Regions from separate parts of the Homo sapiens genome. Here region 2 is linked to region 1. Evidence: fine-mapped expression QTL. A gene starts in region 1. The other region holds a variant in brackets. All regions are shown on one strand. Distances are between the middles of the regions.

Evidence for each region. PIP is the estimated chance that this variant, and not a neighbour inherited with it, causes the effect. A credible set is the group of variants that fine-mapping cannot tell apart.
Region 2: its variant is the best candidate, but not a certain one, in a credible set for the expression of PLA2G4F in esophagus mucosa (GTEx, PIP 0.53).

The regions. Positions count from the first base shown.
Region 1 is chr15:42,155,002-42,157,913 of GRCh38, reverse strand. It overlaps PLA2G4F (phospholipase A2 group IVF), which reads left to right and starts at 1,278. Exons shown (of 20, transcript NM_213600.4): 1 at 1,278-1,475; 2 at 2,325-2,397. The coding sequence starts at 1,365. RefSeq lists an enhancer at 838-1,553.
Region 2 is chr15:42,120,465-42,123,376 of GRCh38, reverse strand. No RefSeq gene overlaps it. Among named protein-coding and RNA genes, the nearest start is that of PLA2G4D, 27 kb to the right of the region's middle. The variant C/G (reference allele first, on the strand shown) is at 1,691.

The sequences.
Region 1 (2,912 bases):
TCAGCCTGTGACTCTAGGCCTTGGGAAGAGTGGAGATGACTGAATCTTAGTTGAGGGACAGAAATTCTCTCCCTCCCACAGTTCACGGCCCCCGAGATCCTCACTCTTCCTGGAGACTGTGCCTGTCTCAGCCACCTTGATGGTTGTGGTCCACAGAAGAGCGAACATCACATCCATCTGCAGCCTAAGGCCTACGATGGCCAAAGAGAATGCTAAAGCCTGTATATCTGGTCGCTGAAGGATACGTAGACTTGTTGTTTGGCCTGTCCTTATTTATAACCCCCTGCCCATATGCCTGTCTGTACCTGGACACTGTACACTGACCCAGGAAGCGAGCCTGGGCCAAAGCCACAGGGAGTCATGAGACTGAATTTCTCCAGGATGTGGATGGGCCCGCCTCACCTCTGTCACCTTTGCGTTTCTGGGCCTAGCACAGGTCTGGCACCCACCAGGCTCTTGGTGTTTGGCGAATTAATGAGGGTGGTCAGGAGAGATTAAAAACATCTTTGATGAGTTCATGTCCTTTGTAGGGACATGGATGAAGCTGGAAACCATCATTCTGAGCAAACTATCGCAAGGACAGAAAACCAAACACCACATGTTCTCACTCATAGGTGGGAATTGAACAATGAGAACACTTAGACACAGGGCGGGGAACATCACACACCGGGGCATGTCGGGGGGCAGGGGGCATGGGGGAGGGATAGCATTAGGAGAAATACCTAATGTAAATGACGAGTTAATGGGTGCAGCACACCAATATGGCACATGTATACACATGTAACAAACCTGCACGTTGTGCACATGTACCGTAGAACTTAAAGTATAATTAGAAAATATATATAAAGAGAGAAACATCTTTGATCCCAGATGAAACACTGAAGCAGAGATTTCTAGGCTTCAGCTTAAGAGCCGCAGGGAAGGTGGGACTTGAAGGGTGGCTAGTTTCAGGCCTTTTCCACAGCTGGAGGAGACTCTTCCCTGATTTGCACTTGCCAGCTGGTCTCTGGGCCAGCTGTGCCAGCTTCACCTAGAGGTCTTGTTGGAAATAGCTCCGGTGTCTATTTTTCACAAACAGCCCAGTGATAACCAGGGCGCTGGGTTTGGGAACAAGAGTGCTAACCAGAGACCCCAAGAGTCTCTTGGAGAGGGACTGAGCTGCCTCCTGCCTGGGGAAATTAAGCTCCAGTCACTTCCTGGAGCATGTCAAACTCCACCTCCAGCAGGCCATCCAGCCTGAGTTCTCTGCAGAGCAGGCAGCTCCACCCTCCCAACTCAGTGCTGCCTGTCACACCTGAGCCAGCAGTTTGTGCAACCAGAGGAGCGCAGGCAGGGTTCCCTGCTGGGGCCCGGGCTGCCCAGCCATGCTTTGGGCACTCTGGCCAAGGTGGCTGGCAGACAAGATGCTGCCCCTCCTGGGGGCAGTGCTGCTTCAGAAGAGAGAGAAGAGGGGCCCTCTGTGGAGGCACTGGCGGGTAACGTACCTGAGATTACCTGGGAAACCCGGACTGGGGGAGTCCTGGGAGCTGCAGTGCCCTGTGAAGACTGAGACCAGCCCCAGCCCTGGGTTTTGAGTTGGGGTGGGACCTGTTTATTCTAGATGACCTGGCAGAGCTTAAATTAGACCTTGGCTCTTAAAAATAGCTCCCTCCGATTAGGAAATGGAGGGTTAGTTCACTTGACACTTGTCTGGGGTGGGTTGGCTTTCACCAAGGATGCGCGAGCCTGGCTGTAGAGTCCACGGAGCTGGTGGGGTTGTGAGGGGAGAGTTTCCCTCCCAGTAGGCAGCATGCTGATGTTATCTCTCCTAAGCCCAGCTGCAATCTGCTCGGTGACTCGTCAGACCGGTACCGGCCGGCCGGTGACTCTCGGCTTCCGCTCACCTGCTCGCTGCCTCCTAGACGGTCTTTGAGCCTCTGTCAGGGAGCAAGCAAGGGAGGGGGTGTCACAGTTTTCTCTTTTAATATTTAATCTTCTCAAGCACAACATTAGCACAGCTCTCACAGCTGCTCCCAAGCTAGAGTGGGGGCGCGAGCGTCTGAGGGGAGCTGCAGGTGTGTGGTGCGTGACAGCCATCGTTAGTTCAGTGAGTCCGTGCTGGATTTAGATTTGAACCCAGACCGGATGGGTTCCAGGGTCCAGACACATCACGAAGGTGCTGAACTCCCAATGCCTGGGACCCGCCAAGGTCTCCCTGCTCCCCGGCACAGAGACGTCAGTGACCCTATGCCAGGTTGCTGCTCCATGATGGGACGAGGGGAACAATGGGGCGAGGGACCAGGCTCACACTAGCTGACTGAGTCCCTGGAGTTCTGTTATTGCAGCGGGAAACCTACCCATACTATGACCTCCAGGTGAAGGTGCTGAGGGCCACAAACATCCGGGGCACAGACCTGCGTGAGTGACCCCATCTCCATCCTTCTCTCTGTCCTTTCCCTGCGGCTTCCTCAGAGCTCAGCTCAGGCTGGCTAACAGAGAGTGTGTGTGTGTAAGAGTATACATGGGTGAGTACAAGTGAGAGTGCATGTGTGTATACATGTGTGAGTATACGTGTAGGCATCTGTGCAAGTATGTGTGAGTGCAAGTGTGAGTACATGTGTATACGTGTGTGTGAGTGCGTGTATATGTGGTGTAAACATGTGAGTGCGAGTGTGTGGGAACACGAGTGTGTATATACATGCGTGCAAGTGTGAGCGAGTGTGTGAGTGCAAATGTGACTGCGAGTGTGTATACACATGTAGGAGTGTGTGAGTGCAAGTGTGAGTGGAAGTGTATATATGTGAGTGCGAGTGTGTGTGAACGTGAGTGTGTATGTGTGTATACGTGTGTGCGTGTTGTGTATGTGTGTCTGTATACATGACAGTGAGTGCCAGTGTGTGTGACTGAGTACGAGTGTGTGTATATACGTGTGT
Region 2 (2,912 bases), 35 kb after region 1:
ACCTATATAGAATACTGGTTCAACCAAACAAAGCATTCACACTAATTATGTTTATGCACAAGCAGGATGAATTTGAAGTGCAGGCCAGAGGAGCCAGCCTAGGGAGTGGGGGCAGGAAGAGGCAGGGATTGCTTAATCTGAGGGGCGACTTCAGGTACAGAGAGGAACATGAACCATCAGGCATCATAGCATGTCCCAAGGACACTCACTTCCTGTTTCCCATTCAAGCTCCATGATCTAAGAATTTCATGTCAACCTGGAACTGCGGCTGCCCTCACCCAGGTGGTGCACAACACAGATTTGGGACAGATCCTCTCAGGACCCTCCCTCTAAGAAAGCCCAGCATTAGGGAAGGGGCCTGTGTTAGTTCAGGTGCTCTAAAGTGGCCAAGATGGGATTATTTGTGCCAGAGACTTGTTAAAGTAAACACCTGTGAATGAGGAAGGAAAGGGGCAGGAGAGCCTTCAGATTGTAATACCATTTGGACACCTATGAAAGGAGACAGGGAAGGAAGGGGCGATGGAAGGAAGGGCCTCAGACTCAGTTCTAAGAAAATTCCAGCCCGGCTGATGGGAGTCCTGGAGCCATAGTTGCCCATTAGAGGGGTCCCATATCCCACAGGAATGGGCAGACACTAGTGCCCCACCACGTTCTGTCTTTGGCTAGGAGTAACTCAAGAAAGCGTGGCCTTGGTGTGAACGCAGTGATAGCTCCAGAGGGTGGCCAGGGACTGGTGGTCACTATAAGCCTGCAGCAGGTTCTTTTGAAGGAGGTCTGATTTTCATGCTTGCCACAGGGTCTTCGGTGTTTCCCATTTCTTTCTGTCTTCTGCATTTATTTTGGGTTTTCTCTCTGTGTTCCCTATTTTATCACAAACTCTTGTTTTTAATAATATTGTTATATAGCCTCTGTTGAATACTTGTTTTGTGTCAAACATTTTACATATGTGTTTTCCTTTATCCTCACAATTCTGTGAGGGAGGTAATATTATTCATGTTTTATAGATGTAGAGACTGAGGCTCAGAGAATTGTTATTTATCCAAGAACATTAAAGTCAAAAGTGACAAAGCCATACCTTGAACTCAAACTCAGGGCTTTTTTTTTTTTTTTAATTCCAACACCCAAAGAATTAGCCACCATACTACCGTATGCCTTTGAGCACTTGGCTTTTTTTTTTCGCATCTTGTGTTTTAGGCATGAATGTGGAGAAAGTAAGGGGCCTGAGTTCAACAACAACAACAAAAAGTCTTTGCATTTGGGAAACTTCCAATGAAGCCAGATACAGGGCTGACAGGAGTGCCTTCAGCCTCCAGAGTGAGCTGGGCTGAGCCCCAGGGATAATATGTGTGTGTGTGTGTGTGTGTGTGTGTGTGTATCTGTGTGTATCTACCCTGATCTGACTGGCTGCTGTTACACCCAGGCCCTGAAACCCTGAGGGCCCCCTCAGCTCCACCCTGATCTGGGTGAGGACAGGCTTCCAGTGTGGATTGCACAAGGTACTTCTTGCAACCTGTGGACCCCTCCAGGGCCAGGCCCAGAGCCAGCCGGCAGAGCTCAAGCTCAGGACTAGGGCAGGGAGGTCCAGCAGGCTGTTAGTCACCAGTACCAGGGCTGGCCTGTCACTTGGCCTATTCTGCCCAGTCTGCAGTGCAGCTGAGCCCTTTCGGGAGTAGGCACAAAGGGTGAGCAT[C/G]TTTATGCTAATGACAGTGCTGACCACTCGCAGAAGGACTGAACAACCAGATGAGTGGGATGGATCGTCCAGTGGTTGTCAATCAGCCCTGTCCTCAGCCATCTTAATGTTTGTGCTCCCAAATGGAGCAGAGATGGAGGCAGTACAGGGGTCCAATAGCATAGGATCCCCATTCCAAGACTGACCTAGCTACTGACACTGCTGATTGTCGAACCTGCCAGCTGCAAAGACTGACACCGAGTCTGCAATAAGGCACCCAGGAGCTCAACTGACCGCTGATGGCAAGCTGATTATACAGGACCCCTTCTGTCCTGAAAAGGACAATTCATACTTACTGAAATGGACACACATTCTGTATGTGGATTACCTTTCCGGCTTCCTGCACCTCAGCAAGCACGACAATCCAACGACTTACACAATGTCTAATCTACATATGACTGTGCATAACAGCAACTTAGAGTAAGGGAGGCAGTGTGGTGCATATCACATCAACCACCAACTATTGCCCAATAGAGTGGCGAGATGGCCTCCTGAAGATGCATGGAGGAGCTAGTTTGGGGATAGTGTGCTATCTTCAGGATGCAATACACATCTGAAGCCAATGGCCATTGCATGTGCATTTGTCCCCACTAGGTAGAATGGATGGTCCAGGGTCCAAGCGGTAGAAGTAGGAGTGGCTCTGCTCATCACTATTCTAAGTGACCCACCTGGGGAATTTATGCTTCTCTTCACAGAAACTTTAGACTCTGTGGGTCTAGAGCTCCTGGTTCCTGGGGGCAGGAGCGGGAAATGCTTCTATTGGAGGACGCCATAGGAGTCCCAATAATCTTACAGCTATGGCTGCAGCCTGGCCACTTTGGCCTCCTCATGCTGGTAGATCAGCAGGCAAAGGAAGGGGTTACAGCTCCAGCAGGGGTAATTGATCTGATCATCAGGAAGACACAGAGCTGCTGCTATACAGTGGGATGATGGGGGCAGGGAGGAATATGTTTGGCACTCAGGTGATCCTGGGTTTGCTTTTTTCTATGTGAAATTTTGCATGTAAAAATGGGTAAATATAGCAACCATGGTCTGAGTAAAGCATAACTTGAGCTTCAGACTCCTCTGAGATAAAGGTCTGGAACACCCCTCCTGAGAGCCACAGAGAGCAGCAGGAGTGCTCGCTGAGAGGCAAGAGAACCTAGAGTGGGTGGTGGAGGAGGAAGATGATGAGTATCAGTGA